Homo sapiens: one gene and its partners. The protein of the gene in region 2 purifies or fractionates together with the protein of the main gene of each other region. This does not show direct contact. Each region holds a gene or a part of one and is shown on either strand. Other genes may lie near its edges. The genes, in order: PTER, SLC27A6 and GUCY1B1.

Region 1 (3,651 bases), on a different chromosome or scaffold from region 2:
CCAAGTAATGTTAGTTAAAAAGAAGTTCCTGAACTGAGGAGATTCTCCAAAGATGTGTAGTCATCACTTGGAAGGTCAAATTTAACAATCAAAGAAAATAACTCCAAAAACAGTAGCTTCCAAACAGACCATTACTATTGCAGTGGAGCATTTTGGGCTCAGTTGTATCTCCCTGCAAAATTTGTCTGTTGCAGCCCGAACCCTCAGCACCTTAGGATGTGGTTGTATTTGCAGATAGTCTTTACAGAAGTAATTAAGTTAAAAGGGGGTTGTTAGGGTAGGTCTCAATCCAATAGGACTGGTGTCCCTATAAAAGATCAATACCCAGACATGCATAAAAGGGAAGACGGCCATCCACAAGCCAAAGAGAGAGACCTCAGAAGAGGCCAACACTGCTGACACCTTGATCTGGGACTTCCAGCTGCCAGAGCTGTGAGAAAATAAATGTCTGTTGTTAAAGCCACCCAGTTTGTGGTATTTTGTGATGGCAGCCCTAGGAAGACAAACATAGTGAGTAATCAAGGTCATCTAATCTAAGCTACAGAAATGGCCCTTAATTACACCTGGGGGCTCTACATTTTATTTCATCTTATTTTTATTGTTTTTGAGACAGAGTATCACTCTGTCACCCAGGCTGGTATGCAGTGGCACAATCTTGGCTCACTGCAACCTTCGCCTCCCGGGTTCAGGCGATTCTCCTGCCTCAACCTCCTGAGTAGCTGGACTTACAGACGTATGCCTGGCTAATTTTTGTATTTTTAGTAGAGATGGGGTTTCGCCATGTTGGCCAGGCTGGTATCGAACTCTTGACCTCAAGTGGTCCGCCTGCCTTGGTCTCCCAAAGTGCTAGGATTACAGGCATGAGACACCACGCCTGGCCTGCAGGCTCTGAATTTATAAAGTGAGAAGAAAATCTGTCAAAAGAGCTGGCCAGGCACATGCAAGTCAACCTAATTCTTATTTACTTATTTAATAGAGATGGGAGTCTCACTGTTGCCCAGGCTGGTCTTGAACTCCTGAGCTCAAGCAATCCTCCCGCCTTGGCCTCCCAAAGTGCCGGGATTACAGCATGAGCCACCGTGCATGGCCAACCTAACACTTTTAAACAAATTCTGATGGCAATCAGATGACAGCTCAGGGCATGGGCTCTGACCAAATAAATCTTTATTTCAATTTCTCAATTACATGGTCGGGCTTTATCTGTCCTCCAAACTGTTAGAGAGCAAGACTGATAACATCTAACCTTTCAGATATGCAAGAATGTAGGAGATGAGACATGTCGAATTGTCAAGGCATAAACATGAGATAACTTTGAGAATTTATGAAAATTTAAAAAATGTTTTTAAAAATCAACAAACAAATAATTTGGAAAATAGTAAGCCACATCAGGAAAGAAATTTTGTGGGTACACAGTAACACCAAGGATTTTGTGGTCGCAATGGGCTTTCAGTTACATAAAAGAGCACGAAATTAACAATATTTACCAATATTCTCTTCAAAGTGCTCTTCACACACCAAATAATTACCCAATTAAGCCACTGCAAGATAAGTTGCTATTACTCTGGATTTAGTAAAAAGAACTAATAATTACTCTTTTAACAGTTTCTGTGAAGAAAGAACTCAGTGTTTACCATACACAAGTGAGCACATCCCACCCGTTTAATAAGTAGGGAACAGGAAAAAAAAAAAGGCTGATTATGTAAGTGAATTCAGTGGAGGACACAGATGACTAAGAACCACAACCTGTGAAAACAGAGAATTTAATATGTAAAGCAGAGACCACCATTGGCAAAAGGCTATTTATGAATACTGCCAATACTTAGCATTGCCAGCTGACAATAGAAGATCTTCGGTCATGCCCCGAACAACATAATTCATCACACTAGTGCTTGGGCCAGTCACGTCCAAGCAATTTATCATCATCATATCACTCGCCTGACTATAATAAGGGGAGAACTTTGATTGTTAACCTCTAGGGAGACTGGATTTATAGCCAGTGTCCCCTAAGAATGCAGCACAGCTCTGTCCAAAGCACAATGCTCCCGGCTTGCCTTCTGTTTAACTCAGAATAAAAGAGTGAACACACTGCCCCTAGGACATTAACAGCAAAACCTAAGTCTGATACTCTTAGATCCGAAATCAGATAGCCAGGAAATCATATTTAAAATACTCTTTGAAGCTGCCTGAAAAAAAACGTATTAGTCAATGGTAAGTACGGATGATTCATTTCAAATGTCCTTCAGTGACAAAATAATTTCTGAAATGTATCCACTGATAACTGCATTTGGGAAGAATCATCTTTTCACAACTCACCCACGAACATTCCTCTGTATTGGAAAACTTGGAAGTGCACTGAAAATTGTTAAAAATATATAAATTGTGTTTTTCAAAGTAAAAATGAAAGCCTTGATTCTTATCCCTTCCAGGCATACAGCCTTTACCTATTTTACACTTTAACATGGTCTGCCCTTACAGAATGCAATTAAACATCTAAACGCCATTTTTGCCACTCTTGATTAAAATCACAAAGCAGACTGGAGCATGATGGGAACAGCACACCTGCCATCTCCCACACAGTAAAAGGAGCATGATTCATAGGACAAGCCTCTTTCAGGGCCCTCCCCACAGCTCCCAAGGTATCTGGTAAACCAGAGCCAGAAATCCCCGCATACATGCAGCTTATCTGATAATATTCATTACGCAGGCTTGACCAGGCTAGGCCACAGTAACACTCAAATCCCCGAATCTCAGGGTCTGACCACAACAAAAGTTTATTTCTAGCTCATCGAATACGTCTAACACAGGAAGGCAGGGGGCTCCGCTCACTGTCCTCTATGACCCAGGCTGAGACCACTGCCTCTATCTGGATGGTCACTGCGGCAGAGGGAAAGTGATTGTGACAAATCTTTCACTGGCTTTTAACACAGTTTTACCTGGAAGTGACACAGGTCACTCCACTTGCGTTTCGTTAGCCAAACAAGTCACGTGGACATACCTGCCTGGAAGGAGACAGGGAAATGGCTAACATTCACAGCTCTCACGCTGAGCAGGCACAGAGGTATTTGTACTCAGGTGGTTATTGTTTTGACAAAATAGGTACAACCACAGAGCCAGTTTATGCCAAATGGAACCAGATATTTTATTTTTCTTATTCTTTTTTCTTTTTCTTTTTTTTAAGAGATGATGTCTATGAATGAGAAGCCTTTTGTTATAAAAGTGTTATTAAGGGCCGGGCGTGGTGGCTCATGCCGGGAGGCTGAGGCAGGTGGATCACCTGAGGTCAGGAGTTCAAGAGCAGCCTGATCAACATGATGAAACCCCGTCTCTACCAAAAATACAAAAAAATTAGCTGGGCGTGGTGGTGCATGCCTATATTTCCAGCTAGTTGGGAGGCTGATGCAGGAGAATCACTTAAACCTGGGAGGCAGAGGTTGCAGTGAGTCAAGATAGGGCCACTGCACTCCAGTCTGGGCAATAGAGTGAGACCCTGCCACAAAAAAAAAAAAAAAATCTTGTTAGGAAAACCTGGACCACTGAAAATACACTAGAAACAACAGCTAAAGAAAACAGAACAAAGCCACATTTGATGTATGAAAATATATTCAACAACTACCTCAGTCAAGTTCATAGGGATACTGAGCAGACTCGAGC
Region 2 (3,651 bases):
CCATTGTGTTCCAATTGCCTACGATATTCAGTACAGTAATATCCTGGTACAAGTTTGTAGCCTAGGAGCAATAACCCATACCACAGCGCCTAGGTGTGTAGTAAACTATGTCATCTAGGTTCGTGTAGGTACACTCTATGATGTTCACACAACAACAAAATCACCTAACACATTTCTTTTGTTTGTTTGTTTGCTTTTGTTTTTTGGAGTCTCACTCTATTCCCCAGACCGGAGTGTAGTTGCACGATCTCAGCTCACTGTAATCTCTGCCTCCTGTGTTCAAATGATTCTCCTGCCTCAGCTTCCCAAGTAGCTGGGATTACCAGTGTCTGCCACCACACTCGGCTAATTTTTGTATTTTTAGTAGAGACGGGGTTTTGCCATGTTGGCCAGGCTGGTCTCAAACTCCTGACCTCAGGTGATCTGCCTGCCTCAGCCTCCCAAAGTGCTGGGATTACAGGCGTGAGCCACCACGCCTGGCCCGTCTAACACATTTCTAAGAAAAGTATCCTTGTCATTAAGTGATTCATGACTGTATATACTAGCTAACATCAAATAAGGTTGTAGCTGCAAAATCCAAATGAGATCCCTTATTAAAAGCCCCAGGATTACTCTATAATCATAATAGCAATCATTTAAATACAATAAGATCTACTTAGTACATACCAGGCACTCAGCTAGCCACTTTACAAAAGATGTGTCATTTAATCCTCAGAATTATACTGTGAATCAGATGGTATCATCACCATTTTACAACTAAGTTCAGTGAGATCCAGGGTAACTGATGATATTATCTTTAACCATACAGCCAGGAAGTGGCAGACCATACATGGAATTTGGGTCTGTCTGGCTTACCTCCGTCTGAACCACATGATTCATCTTTCTACCTCAATATACTCTCCCTGGGGGTATAATGATTTAATAGTACACCATCAGAAACATCCAATGAGAATCCAAGAAATCTGAAATTTAATGTGCTAAAAAGAGTATGTTTATATTGTTCACAAATGAGACTCCAGATGCCAACAACACAGTATTTTAAGTATAAAAGTGACTATGATCTAAGCTACATCTTATTACAAAATCTGTTAATCAAAATAGAATTTTTCCATCTTTGGAAAACATATATCTCATTTATATTTGAAGGTATGCCAGAAAGAATGGGTGACTTCTCCAGTGACCTACTTACCGAGCCAATCAACTAAATAGTCTTGGCTTAAAACTTCAGTATCCCAAAGTGGCTTTTTTAAATACAAAAAACTGACTGTTGGTGTTAAAAACAAAAATAAGAAAACAATGCAATTAGTTATTGGCAAGCAAAGTAAAAGCTGGCACAAGTAAAACTGCAAAATTAATTGGTCCTAGTTAAACAACAATTCGGTCAACAGAAAAGCCTGAATGCTCTATCTTGAGAAGTAGCCAGTCCTATGTACTTTAAGACGAATCTCTCAGGAAACCGGCTTTGGAATGTCTCCATTTTTTCAGGGACACTGTGGCCCTCTTGGTTGGCCCTTGTAAACAGAACTTACGGCCTTATCAATTATTAGCAAAACTTGGAGTTTACATTTGCTCCTAGACCCTTTCCTCCCGTAATGAAAACAAGATTAAAATGAGTGCTCAGAAGTAAACCTTTGTGTTTTTATTGTTCCAAGATAGCTGAATAGGAACAGCACCAGTCTATAGCTCCTAGCGTGAGCGACGCAGAAGACAGGTGATTTCTGCATTTCCAACTGAGGTACCGGATTCATCTCATTTGGACTTGCTGGACAGTGGGTGCAACCCACAGAGTGTGAGCAAAGTAGGACAGGGCATCGCCTCACCTGGGAAACACAAGGGGTCAGGGAATTCCCTTTCCCAGCCAAGGGAAGCTGTGACAGACGGTACCTGGAAACTCGGGATACTCTCACTCTAATACTGCACTTTTCCAATGGTCTTAGCAAACAGCACACCAGGAAACTATATCCCGTGCCTGGCTTGGTGGGTCCCACACCCACGAAGCCTTGCTCACTGCTAGCACAGCAGTCCGAGATTGAACTGCGAGGTGGCAGCAAGGCTAGGGGAGGGGAGTCCACCACTGCTGAGGCTTCACTAGGTAAACAAAGCAGTGCGGAAGATCGAACTGGGTGGAGCCCACCACAGCTCAAACCGGGCTGTGTGCCTCTGTAGACTCTACCTCTGGGGGCAGGGCATAGCTGAATAAAAGGCAGCAGACACTTCTGCAGACTTAAACGTCCCCATCTGACAGCTCTGAAGAGAGCAGTGGTTCTCCCAGCAGGGAGTTTGAAATCTGAGAACCGACAGACTGCCTCCTCAAGTGGGTCCCTGACCCACGAGTAGCCTAACTGGGAGACATCTCCCAGTAGGGGCCAACTGACACTGCATACAAGCAGGTGCCCCTCTGAGACCAAGCTTCCAGAGGAAGGATCAGGCAGCAACATTTGCTGTTCTGCAGCCTCCGCTGGTGATACCCAGGCAAACGGGGTCTGGAGTGGACCTCCAGCAAACTACAACAGACCTGCAGCTGAGGGTCCTGACTGTTAGAAGGAAAACTAATAAACAGAAAGGAATAGCATCAACACCAACAAAAAGGACATCCACATGAAAACGCCATCTGTAGGTCACCATCATCAAAGACCAAGGGTAAATAAAACCACAAAGATAGGAAACCAGAGCAGAAAAGCTGAAAATTCTAAAAATCAGAGTGCCTCTTCTCCTTCAAAGGATCACAGCTACTTGCCAGCAATGGAACAAAACTGGATGGAGAATGAATTTGATGAGGTGACAGAAGCAGGCTTCAGAAGACCGGTAATAACAAACTTCTCCGAGCTAAAGGGGGATGTTCGAAACCATCACAAAGAAGCTAAAAACCTTGAAAAAAGATTAGATGAATGGCTAATTAGAATAAACAGCATAGAGAGGACTTTAAATGACATGATGGAGCTGAAAACCATGGCACGAGAACTGCATGATGCATGCATAAGCTTCAGTAGCCAATTTGATTAAGTGGAAGAAAGGGTATCAGTGATTGAAGATCAAATGAATGAAATGAAATGAAACGAGAAGAGAAGCTTAGAGAAAAAAGAGTAAAAAGAAAAAACAAAGCCTCGAAGAAATATGGGACTATGTGAAAAGACCAAATCTACGTTTGATTGGTGTACATGAAAGTGATGGGGAGAATGGAACCAAGTTGGAAAACACTTTTCAGGATATTATCCAGGAGAACTTACCCTACCTAGCAAGGCAGACCAACATTCAAATTCAGGAAATACAGACAACGCCACAAAGATACTCCACAAGAAGAGCAACCCCAAGACACATAATTGTCAGATTCACCAAAGTTGAAATGAAGGAAAAATGTTAAGGGCAGCCAGAGAGAAAGGTCGGGTTACCCACAAAGGGAAGCCCATCAGACTAACAGCTGATCTCTTGGCAGAAACTCTACAAGCCAGAAGAGAATGGGGGCCAATATTCAACATTCTTAAAGAAAACAATTTTCAACCCAGAATTTCATATCCAGCCAAACTAAGCTTCATAAGTGAAGGAGAAATAATATCCTTTACAAACAAGCAAATGCTGAGAGATTTTGTCACCACCAGGCCTGCCTTACAAGCGCTCCTAAAGGAAGCACTAAATGTGGAAAGGAACAACCAG
Region 3 (3,751 bases), on a different chromosome or scaffold from region 2:
AGATGGCCAGAAAATTCAAATCCTAAAGTAACTTTTGGTGCCTATGTTCTCATTGGATTCAACCACATACTTGCCAAATCTCGGCTTCTGTTTATAATATGTAGGTAATATGCCCTGTGGATAATACAAATGGTTTCTGAAACATGAAAGAAACGCTCAGTGATACAGATCCAGGGGAAAGAAAAGTTACATTTTCGTGCTTAATATATAACCCTGGTCATTTCTATGGAAACAGATCGTTATGAGAAATCACCATCATGTAACTGCATAATAAGGCCTGTTAGAATTGATTGCTAATAATTGTAATGTGCTTAGGGAAAAACAGCATGGAAGCCTCACCTACCTGAGACAACAAAATGAAATCACTAAGTACAGGAAATCAGAGTGAATAATAACAGTGTATTCCCATCTGCCCACCCAGGAAACCCTTCCTTCCACCTTTGTTACAATGTGATAGTCTGACTGTTGCTCTAATATGAAAATCCATAAATAGGGTTTTGGAGTAGCTAGTTGGTGGTGGTCAGCTGTACCATAAGTTAAATGCAAATTTTTTGAGAGTGAGAGGAAAAAGGAGAGACAACTTTATTAGAGTGAAATAGTCAACCTGCCTGCAGACATGCTGACCCATCAGTCATTCCAACAGGTTTAAACTCTCAGGTGGGTGTGGTATTTCCGTTCACATCCCCAGTACTGGGCTCAAAGCTCCAGGACTGAAAGTAGAATGCCTCCTAGAACTGTTAAGTCTTCAACACAGTAGAAAAAAACGGGGGATAGGGGTTGGGGCGGGGGGGGTGGGCAGTGGGATTTGGGGAAAACAAAAAACTTCCAATTTTCACTTTATTTAAAAATGAATAAATGCGCTTAATTCACTGTTGCTCAAGAAATAATCTCCCGCGTGTTTCAGCATACCAAAAAGGCCTAACTTACGCCAGGTGTGTAAATCATAAAGGAGCCAAAGTCTTCCGTTTGTTTCTAAGGCCTCCGGGCGCAGGAACCTCGCGGAGGCCCGTGTGGTCCCTCGGGGCTCTGCACGCGTGGGAGCTGCCCGGCCTGCTGAGCCTGGGAGCGCCGGCAGCGCGTTCCCACGCTCAGGCCGGGTCGGGAAGCCGTGGTGACCCCTAGGGGCTCCTTTCCGCGGTTCTCGCCCTCGCAGCCCCGCCCCAGCCGCCCCTCCCCTCCTGGTTCCAGTCCCGGAGCGTGGGAGCGCAGCTGCAGCGAGCCGGGAGCGAGGCGCGGAGGCACCTCCAAGGATGCGCGCCCGCGACCCGGCCAGCAGGCTGAGGACCAGGCGAGGCGCGGGGGGCCTCCCACACTGGGCGCCGACCTGGGCCACAGCCAGGGTAGCCGGCCACTTACTTGATGTCTTCCCACACCTCGGGGCCGTAATTGCGGATCACCAGCAACTCCAGGGCGTGATTCACAAATCCGTACTGCGGGGACAGGGAGAGACTTGAGCGTCAGGGACCCGCTGTACCTGAGAAGCGGCTTGGGGGCGAGGCTGCTGCCTCTGCTCCCATGGCGCTGGCTTAACCTTTCACCCCGCCCCTGACTCCTCTCCCTTAGGGGTACTATGCACTAAAGGAGTCGGATCGTGGGGGCGCAACCCCCCAATCCCTGGTGGATTCTCCCCGTCACCATCCGCCCCACCCCCACGCTATCTTCCCACCCTCCTCACCTGTCACCGCTCCGGGAGAGGCTGGGCATCGGGGGCAGCGCGGGGACGCGAACCCGGAGCCTTCCCTTCCGCTGGCGCTCAGCCTCCCACACTGGTGGGGCCGGCCAGAGCCGGGAAGACCCCACGCCTCCGCCGCACCTCCCCTTCCCGAGCTCAGGAAGCTGCGGTGTGGAGCGGCAAACCCGCCTGGGAAGCAAAGGCACCGATCGCCCCCGCCACGACTCGCGGCGTTCCCACCTCCCCTGACTGGGCGCGGGCAAGGAGTGAGGCTGCTCCCGTGGCCGGCAGTGAGCGCCCAGGGCCCCCGAGCCAAGCTCCGGCTGCGCGGCCAGTTCCCTCGCTGCCAGGCCGGCCGAGGAGGGGTGAGGTTCGGGCCGCACCCGGCTGAGAGCACTTACCATGGTGTCTGCACCGGGAGCCGGGGAGGCAGCCCCCACGCAGAGGTACGGCCGAAGGGACCCAGGCAGAGGCGGCAGCGGCTACAGCGCAACCGGGCCGGGGAGGCAGCATCGAGCTGGAGCGAGAACAGCCGCCTTGGCCCGCCCTGATTGCCACCTCTTCCCAGCCAATGGCGAGTCGAGCCGCAGGGGGCTGGTCGGTGCTCCCCAGTTCTTCAACCAATCAGGGACAGAGGAGGGAATTCGGATGCTCTCAATGCTGCTGCGCTCCAGTGCCTTCCCGCCCCCGCCTGGTGACAAGGCCTTCATTTGAGGCCATAACAATGACAGTGGAGAAGCCCCAGCCGTGCTCCTTGCATGAATTCTGGAGCAGAGGAAATGCAGCTCTTGTGGACCCACTAAATGTATTATTATTCAGAGATCTGCCCTCAGTGGTTAACACAAGCAAAAGGGAACAGGGCGTGTTTGTTGTGTGAGCGTGTACGTGTGTACTTTGCAATGGACAGACCTTAAAAGGAATATCCTCTGTTGCTGGCATCCTCATGCTTATCTTTGTCTAGCGGAAAAACATTTCCTCTGTGGCTTGGTCCCACAACAGTTTATGGCAAATTTAAAGCTGGTAATATTGAGAAAAACATATTTTCACTTCTAGTCAATGAGACTAGTTGAGTGAAGCACCAAAAATTTTCAGTAATGTAGTTTGGTGGACGTTATGTTAAATCCAGTCCTGCCCTTTACTAAACTGTACAAGATCCAGCGATATTCTAGGCTTGATCCCTGTGGGACACCTTTCCCTACACCATGTCCGGGAGCCATAATTCCAGGGAGTTTGTAACCCTCTAGAGCGGGCCTCTGTTGCTGTTTCTTAGCAACAGACGAACTGGAAAATGACCAGTACAAAATGCACAGACTTTAACTACTCTACCTCCAGCTTACATTCTACCAGGCCCTTAGGTTAGTTAATGCTCTGAGTCCTGCCATAGAGAGAAGATGAGAGGAACAGGAAGTGGCAGCTTATTAAAGCTGTTTGTACCTGAGGTATATGGACTCCAGTTGACTTTTAGGGCAAGGTCAAAAGTGAGGTCACCAGTCTCAAGTGGACCTGAGAAGCCAGATGGTATTTTAAGATGTGCATATTTTGTTGTGAGAACAGTCTCAATATGGTTAGAGAAAAATGTCAAAACAATAAGATTGTGCTGACATCAGCACCGAGAGAGCTATGATGAAGGAAACTGATACAGAAATAGTGGCATGTAGCAAACAAACAAAACAACAAATTACTTTAAAAATTTCCATTATTGGTGGAATGAGTAAATAGATTACAGCCTTTCATACAATCTAACACCTTGTTTTAAACAACTATTAAAACATTAATCATTATTTAACAACAATTAACCACTAATTTTGAACCATTAAAATGGCACATTAAACAACCATGAAAAAGCAGGAGGGTGACTAGAAAATGATGATGCAGAAAAGTATTGTCAGGTTTACAAAACACCACAAGAATGTAATCATTTTCCATTTTTTAGAGTTAGTATACAGTAAGGTGCTATGTGGGTAATAACACAGGCACATACATGTTGCTGTAAGAATAATGGTTTGGGAGGAAACACAGGAAGTGTTGATATGGCTATCGTCTGTAATTAGAACCAGTGGCTGGAATGGCCATGACTCT

The links.
Region 1: the proteins of SLC27A6 (region 2) and PTER purify together in Homo sapiens (affinity purification with mass spectrometry; one large-scale study listed by BioGRID and IntAct). This does not show direct contact.
Region 3: the proteins of SLC27A6 (region 2) and GUCY1B1 purify together in Homo sapiens (affinity purification with mass spectrometry; one large-scale study listed by BioGRID and IntAct). This does not show direct contact.

Annotation. Positions count from the first base shown.
Region 1 is NC_000010.11:16,439,927-16,443,577, reverse strand, and holds part of PTER (N-acetyltaurine hydrolase), read right to left. Parts: intron 1-3,651. UniProt on the Homo sapiens protein: N-acetyltaurine hydrolase that regulates feeding by catalyzing the hydrolysis of N-acetyltaurine into taurine and acetate. N-acetyltaurine has anorexigenic and anti-obesity effects that are dependent on GFRAL receptor and GDF15.
Region 2 is NC_000005.10:128,971,900-128,975,550, reverse strand, and holds part of SLC27A6 (long-chain fatty acid transport protein 6), read right to left. Parts: intron 1-3,651. UniProt on the Homo sapiens protein: Mediates the import of long-chain fatty acids (LCFA) into the cell by facilitating their transport at the plasma membrane.
Region 3 is NC_000004.12:155,757,466-155,761,216, reverse strand, and holds the start of GUCY1B1 (guanylate cyclase soluble subunit beta-1), read right to left. Parts: upstream 2,197-3,751; 5' UTR 2,077-2,196; coding exon 2,074-2,076; intron 1,862-2,073; exon of another isoform or gene 1,676-1,861; intron 1,431-1,675; coding exon 1,357-1,430; intron 1-1,356. UniProt on the Homo sapiens protein: Mediates responses to nitric oxide (NO) by catalyzing the biosynthesis of the signaling molecule cGMP.